2 linked regions of the Homo sapiens genome follow. The protein of the gene in region 1 interacts with the protein of each later gene in a pairwise test. Each region holds a gene or a part of one and is shown on either strand. Other genes may lie near its edges.

Region 1 (3,816 bases):
GATCCCCAGGAGGAGGCCTCCTTAGGTCCCCAAGGCAGCAGCACTGAGGAGAGATTAATCTTAGACTTTAGTGATTCAATGGAGTAGAATTTGGGGGGAATTTATTTATTTACTTATTTATTTATTGAGATGCAGTCTTGCTCTGTCACCTAGGCTGGAGTGCAGTGGCATGATCTTGGCTCACTGCAACTTTCACCTCCCAGATTCAAGCAATTCTTCCTGCCTCAGCCTCCTGAGTAGCTGGGATTACAGGTGCCCACTACCATGCCTGGCTAATTTTTGTATTTTTAGTAGAGATGGGGTTTCACCATGTTGGCCAGGCTGGTCTTGAACTCCTGACCTCAGGTGATCCACCCGTCTTGGCCTCCCAAAGTGCTGGGATTACAGGCGTGAGCCACCGTGCCTAGCCAGGGTTGAATTCACTTATTTACTTTGAGACGGAGTCTTGCTGTGTCGCCCAGGCTGGAGTGCAATGGCCACAATCTCAGCTCACTGCAACCTCTGCTTCCTGGGTTCAAGGGATTCTCCTGCCTCAGCCTCCCAAGTAGCTGGGATTACAGGCACATGCCACCACATCCGGCTACTTTTTGTATTTTTTAGTAGAGATGAGGTTTCACCATGTTGGCCAGGCTGGTCTCGAACTCCTGACCTCAGGTGATCCACCCAACCTCAGTCTCCCAAAGTGCTGGGGTTACAGGAGTGAGCCACCGCATCCGGCCTAGGGTGAATTTAATGGGAGAGGAACAAGATCACAGCTCTCTGCTCAAGGATCTGACGGGCATTGCAGCTCTGCTGCTAAGCCATACATCAGGAAGGGGATACACCCAAGGCCCCACTGCTCACCTGAGTTTCTGGGAGGCAGAGGCTGGAGCTGCCATGGGCTCAGGGCTCCCGATCTCCTCTTCCTCAGGGCCTCGGGCTCTCTTTGCCTCTGGTGGACCAAGCAATTCTTTCTGAGACAGCTTAACAGGTCCCAAGGCTAGATGATTGGAGGATGGGGTGGAGAGAGGGATTGGGGGTGGTCAGCCTCTGTGCTGATGCTTGGTGGTTTCAACAAACTCCCTAATTTCCAGACCCAGCGTTTCCACTCCTGCCTCCCCCAGTTCTCACCATGAGGCTGCAGGCTCTCATTGGTAAAAGGCCGATTGATCACCTCCTTGGACCTGGCAGCAAAGTTGAGTGCGGAGACTGTGTCTAGGTAGAAGCGTCTCTCAGGGGCAATGTTGGCAATAAGGATACTGTGGGCTGAGCCACCCAGAGAGTCCTGAGGGTGAGACCAGGCAGTGGGTGGGTCAGAAGCCCAGCCTTCCTATGCCTCAACTGCTATTCCCCACCCCACAGCAGGCCTGAGAACCTCCTTCTGCAGCCCCTTCTTCCCTGAGACAGGTGGGCCTGACCTGCAATAGGCGAGTGAGCTTGCTGTCCCGATAAGGTACACGAGGGAGGCCCTGATTCAGCGCATCTACCACTTTGCCCAGGACAAACAGGGAGGTGTTGATGGCTCCACTCTCTTTTAGCCGAAGGCCCTTGTTGCCTGTGCGCCGGTTGTCCTCTGACCCAGCCAAGTCAATCAGGTAGAGTTTTCCCTCTCGCTGGCGAAATGGGGCCAAACGTTCCCGCTGGTCCACCTGGGGGTAAGAACAAAGGTCTCGTGCTTAGCTCAGGCTCCTGGGCTTCCCAGGTCCTCGCCCCTGTCTGCGGCCTCACCTTGACCAGGAGCACAGCATGACTGCGGGAGGAGCGCTGGTTGAGCCGGGTGGCTCCTACAGTCCGATTTCGACTGGCTGGCAGGAAGTGCCGCTCAAAATCAGCAAAGCTACTGATGGGCTTCTGGGAGAGACCCGGAATCAGGATATTCCCCCGGCAGTCTTCTCGGATTACCAGGTCTCCCGAAGCAGGGTCCAGGAGGTCTAATACCTGTGTAAGCAGTGAAGGGGAAGGGCAATTCTCCATAGAGAGGCTGTTTCTTCCTGGGGATCAGTTTCCTTTCTCTGTTCTATTCTCGGAGTTGTACCATCTGCTACCCCAGTCTCTGTCTTTCTAGGTCTCACCTTACCTCCCTGCTACAGCAGAGCTTCATGTTCTAGAACCAGGTCTTACTTTGACCCTTTGTTGCTCCTCTCCCAACCAGCACGGGGCCTCACCTTCTCCTGGTAGATCTCTAGGTAAGACATGGTGACAGAAAGGGCCCATGGCCGGCCCTCGGCACCCTCCTCCCTTGTGAGCTGCAGGAGGTCCATGAGAGCCCGCGGGATCACCCCAGGTTGCTCTGGGCTGCCCAGCATTGTGTGCGTCTTCCCTGGGAAGAGAGTGGAGAAAACTGTGAGGTTTTCCTCTCCGTTTCCCCAGCCCTTTCTGACCCATAGCTGTTTCTTTTCTGGCTCCCTCACCAGCTCCTGTGGGTCCATAGGCAAGCACACTGGCATTCTGCCCTTCCAGCAAGTGCCTTAGGATGGGCTGCACTGAACCTGCATAGATGTCCTGCTGAGTACTCCTCTCCCCATAGAAGGCATCAAACCTGCAGGAAGAAAGAAAGAAATTAGCGTGTGTGTGTGTGTGTGTGTGTGTGTGTGTGTGTAAGGGGTGGAGTGGGGTGGGGGTGGGTAAGGGATTCTACTCTCATCTGGACCTTGGATTTAAGAGAACGTCTCTATCCCCTTTCTTGTACAAAGACCTTAAAAAGCATCCACCTAACACCTACTCCATCCTCATCTCTCTATTGGTGTTAGGAATACAGAGATAGATCTGATATCCCTGCTCTTGGAGTTTTTCAGTCTGGTAGGATAGATATCCACACTTTGCTGTGATTTAGGAAACGAAGATAAGAACACACTCTCAAAGGAGTAACTGATTCTGCTCAAGGAAGGAAGATTTTGACCAAAGAAAGAAATTCTGAGAATCAAGAATAGCAAAAAAGCAAGGCTTCCCAGTCTTTTTCAAATGGCTACATGTGTAGAACATTGTATTTTACACCATAATGGGGAAAATAGAGGATGCTGCTTATGACTGAACTAGACTCTACATACCAATCACCTATCCACTGCGTTCTGGTGGAGAAGTGCAGCTTAGGCCACAGCAGGGAGTTTAATATATATTGAGGGAATGAGGCTGGAAAGAAACTGAAGCCCAAATTGTTAACGGCCTAGTATGGGAGCTAGCAAACTTCTGTAAAAAGGCAGATTGTACATATTTTAGGCTTTGTGGGCCATGTGTTCCTTTTACAACTACTCAACTCTGCCACTGTAGTCAGAAAGCAGCTATAGACAATATGTAAATAAACGATAAAATTTTATTTACTGAAAATCTTACTCCTGATCAGATTTGACCTGCAGGCCATGGTTTGCCAGCCCCCGCCTAGAAAAACAGGCCAAGGAGTTTGAACTTTAAATCCCCAGTAGGATTATAAAGTAGCTGCCCTTCTGAGTTCTGTCCCCAAATCTGGGTGGTCTTCTCTGACACTACCCAGCTGCAGCTTGGGTAGGCTGGCTGGCAGGTCTGTGTTCCGCCAACCCTCCTGATATGTCCCCCAGCCTCTACTTGGGGCTCACCTGCTCACCCTCATTGCTCCTCCCTCTCTGTGCACAGTAATGTATGTTTGATTCAACCTCTCATCTCTCCCTACAGTATCCCAGAGAGGGCCCATCATGGGGGCACCTGTCAACATTTCCTAAGTGAACAGTGAAGGCTCAGGGAACAAAGCGGTGCTAAGGAGGGAGCAAGGATCCTGGGGAGGCAGGGGAACGTGGGCAGGCCTAGGAGAGGGAGGTGATGGCATGAGGGAAGAGGAGTGGCCTGAACCTTACTGGTATTTGAGAG
Region 2 (3,816 bases), on another chromosome or scaffold:
TGTGTGCTCACCCATTCAATTCTGAATACACTTCCGGGCTGTTCACAGAAACTTTACAGCCATCCTTGAACGCCTTACATGTCCACAAAGCCCAAGCTAAGAAGCTACGTCTTTCCAGTATCTCACTTTTAAAAATGAGAATTTTACAGTAGGATTAAAGCTTTCAGAAAAATACAGGTCAACTAAAATTTACCAAAAAACAGGTAAGTAAATCAGGAATTATTGCTTAGTGGATAGACACAGGACTTCTTCATCAAAAGTCCTAAGTCCAGATGGACAGAATATTCCCAAAGATGGGAAGGCTCCTTTAAAAGCCTTTGAAAGAAGGGGGCATAATATTAGTATTTCCCACTGGGGAATACCCCAGGGATATTTTCTCATGTGTAAAACATCAGAACTTGTGTATAAGTGATATTTATTGTTAATTTCCTTAAATGATCTCTCTTCTTCCTCACCTAACCAGTTGTCAATATTTGGGTTTCTGGGATGAAACTCTCTTTGAGCCCCATTTTCGTGGAAGAGAACTTCAAGCCTCAATAGGCCCAACTGCTTCCCCGATTGAAGACATCCCTCTCCTCATTGCACTGTCCCCTCTGCCCCTTCCCTATGCCCCTCAGCCTGCCAGGTCTAACTTATCATGAATTTTAAGTAAGTAAAGGAGAAAGTAAGTCAGATTTAACAATGTGATTAATTTGTCAGTTGAAAAAGATAGCATCTATTATTTTACAAATAATGTTCAAGAAGCTTGGCTTAAAACTAGAAAGAAGGGCCAGGTGTGGTGGTGCATGTCTGTAATCCCCGCACTTTGGAAGGCTGAGGTGGGAGGACTGTTTGAGGCCAGGAGTTCGAGACCAGCCTGGGCAACATGGTGAGACCTCCCAACTCTACAAAAAATCTTTTTGAAAAAATTAGCCAGGCATGGTGGTACGTGTCTGCAGTCCCAGCTACTGGGGAGGCCGAGGCAGGAGGATCACTTGTGTCCAGGAGTTCGAGGCTGCAGTGAAGCTGTGACAGCACCATTGCACTCTAGTCTGGGCAACAGAGGAAGACCATTCCTCTAAAAAAAAAAAAAAAGAAAGAAGGGGCCAGGCACGGTGGCTCACGCCTGTAATCCCAGCACTTTGGGAGGCCGAGGCAGGCGGATCAGGAGGTCAGGAGATCGAGATCATCCTAGCTAACACGGTGAAGCCCCAACTCTACTAAAAATACAAAAAATTAGCTGGGTGTGGTGGTGTGCGTCTGTAGTCCCAGCCACTTGGGAGGCTGAGGCAGGAGAATCGCTTGAACCCGGGAGGCAGAGGTTGCAGTAAGCCAAGATCATCCCATTGCACTCCAGCCTGGGTGACAAAGCAAGACTTAGTCTCAAAAAGAAAAAAAAAAAAAAAAGGAAAGAAGGAAAAGAAAGAAAGAAGACTTTTCATTGTGGTTTAGTATAGTCTTAGGCAGTTTGAAATGTATCTAGAAAAATAAGAGTGGTCAGTGAAGCCTGCAGACTTCCGTGTGGTGGGAGGTGCTGAGGAAGGGTGGAGGTTGGCAGAACTGTGGGAACAGGCGATGGAAATGGTTCTCCTAATATGGAGTTGACAAGATTTTTCTTCACCCAGTTTTCCTATCAACTATTCCATCATGTTTTTTTCCTACTGAATACTTTCTCCTTTTTTTGTACAAATTTATGTGGTGCATGAGAAATTTTGTTACACATATAAAATGCATAGTGATCAAGCCTCTATTTAGAATGTCCATCACCTCAGTACAATACGTTTTTATTTAGTCACCCTACTCTGCTATCAAACTCTGAATTTATTCCCACTATTGCATCTTTTGCTGCTTAATTCATCTGTGGTTAAGGGTTAACAAGGAAAACACATCCCCAAGGTAATTTACTTCCAGTTCTCTGTATCTGTCTAATTTAAATATATTCCTCTGCACCCTACGTCATTCTTTTGAAAGAAATTAGGCTACTGTGTTATTTGATGCTGAAATGCAATCTTTCAAGCTATTACCTGACATACAATTTCTAAATGCAGTTCAGAAAAGTCATCCATTTTACAATCTGTAAAAGAAACAAAACTTGGATTCTAAGTCCAAAGATATATGCCCTCTATGTAAATTTATCTTCACTCCCTCTACACATATTTTACACAAAGTCACAAGTGGTTTGTGCATTCAGTATGAACCCTGTGTATCTAAAAGGGGAAGAGCCAAGATTTCAGCTCCTGTCATTAGATAGTCCAAGAATTTAATATTATAAAAGATATTGGGACAGTGGAAACAAATAAATAAAACAGAAGTCTGTTTCTGTTTGTTTTCTCATCTGAGTCTGGAACCAGCCCTGTCCAAACCAGGCTCATTACCAAACCAGGCTCATGAGCAAAGGCAGTTCACTCTCAAACACCTCAGCTTCCTAGAATTACTCCAGGACAACAGCACAGTCCTGTTAGAAGCTGAATGTATGATTTCATCTCTTTGCCCATCACCGAGATTGTTTTCTAAAAGCAAGCTGTAAGCTCCTCCCCGAGAGAATTACTTTTCGCTCACCGAATCTCATTACCTTTCTTTAATAGACATGGTTTTGCTGGGTGAGTCAAGAAGGCCCTCCCCTGTCGGCGTTTTGATCTCTCCAGCAGCAAACATCGCACATGGATTCTTGCAGAGCTTCTCCTGTGGCTGTTCCGAAGAATCCTGGGGCTTCCAGGACACGGGGGCTGTGGTTTGAGCAATAGTTTTCCCAGCAGCTGTCCCCGTCTGCTCGGAAGTGGGCTCCCCGAACTCTGCCGCTGGGAAGGAAAAGAGCAACATCAGCACTGAACTCCTCAGGCAAACATTCTTCCAGCGATTCGCCCTCAACAGTGCAGCTCTCAGGGTTCAATCCGTGGGCACACGGCGGGTGACCCAATCCACTGGGATTTATGCAAATCTGCAGCACGCTACACTCTGTGAGAAAACCAAACTTCCTGGAGGGTTACCCACACAGCAAAATGCTTCGTGGCAATTGGTTTCTCTCCTGTGTGCGAGACACAGGAAGTCAGCTTTAACTATTTACTCCAGAATGGTTCTATTCTCCAAAATAATACCTTAACATTCAAATGTGCTATACTCACAAACGCAAACCCCTATTATAACTTACACTGTACTGTTTCATACAAACGTAGAAAGAGGATGAAGGGCCCACGCAGTGTAGCTTGCTAGCCTGCAAAACAGGCATGCAGGAAGAAGCACTCTAGCGATTCAGAGACTGGGGTCAAGTCTTTCCTGAATTCCTTGTGCTTACCCAGCCTGGACCTTTGGGGTCATCAATTTCTAAAAGGGGCCACCAGAACTAAGCAGCTCAGAAGGCCATTGTGTGAGTGACCAAAGTCAACAGAAACTCCATGAAGATGTGTGAAAGCTCTTCCAGTAGTTTTATTGCTGAAAACTTGATGTATCCTCTAGTCAGATCCAGGGAAGAATAGGATTCCCGCTGAACTTTTAACCAATACTAGCTGTAAACTGCCTATAGAACTTTGTTAAAAGCCATCATAGACACAGGACAAATCAAGCAGAAACTAAAACCCAGTGGCTTTCTAAAGCTTTAGGGGCACTGGTCACTTACCTCTTAGTGAAAACTTCCTTTTCATAACATTCTCCACCTCCACCTTCTCTTCAAAGGGCAGCCTGTCCCTCAAGTCCAAGTTTCCTTGTGCATTCATTTTAGCCATGGAAAATTCCTTCGGTTCATCCCCGAGGTGGGTGATGGGAGGGTTCGCCCGTTCCAGGCTTCCTCTTCTGGGAACAGCATATTTAGATTCCTTATGGCTGTCTCCTTCCCTGGCTCGG

What was found.
Region 2: the proteins of KIF22 (region 1) and SVIL interact in a two-hybrid assay, tested with the Homo sapiens proteins (one study listed by BioGRID).

Annotation. Positions count from the first base shown.
Region 1 is NC_000016.10:29,797,076-29,800,891, reverse strand, and holds part of KIF22 (kinesin-like protein KIF22), read right to left. Parts: coding exon 3,804-3,816; intron 2,519-3,803; coding exon 2,391-2,518; intron 2,300-2,390; coding exon 2,145-2,299; intron 1,918-2,144; coding exon 1,708-1,917; intron 1,629-1,707; coding exon 1,398-1,628; intron 1,265-1,397; coding exon 1,111-1,264; intron 980-1,110; coding exon 844-979; intron 719-843; coding exon of another isoform or gene 670-718; exon of another isoform or gene 90-669; intron 1-89. UniProt on the Homo sapiens protein: Kinesin family member that is involved in spindle formation and the movements of chromosomes during mitosis and meiosis. Binds to microtubules and to DNA. Plays a role in congression of laterally attached chromosomes in NDC80-depleted cells.
Region 2 is NC_000010.11:29,519,859-29,523,674, forward strand, and holds part of SVIL (supervillin), read right to left. Parts: coding exon 3,593-3,816; intron 2,778-3,592; coding exon 2,552-2,777; intron 1-2,551.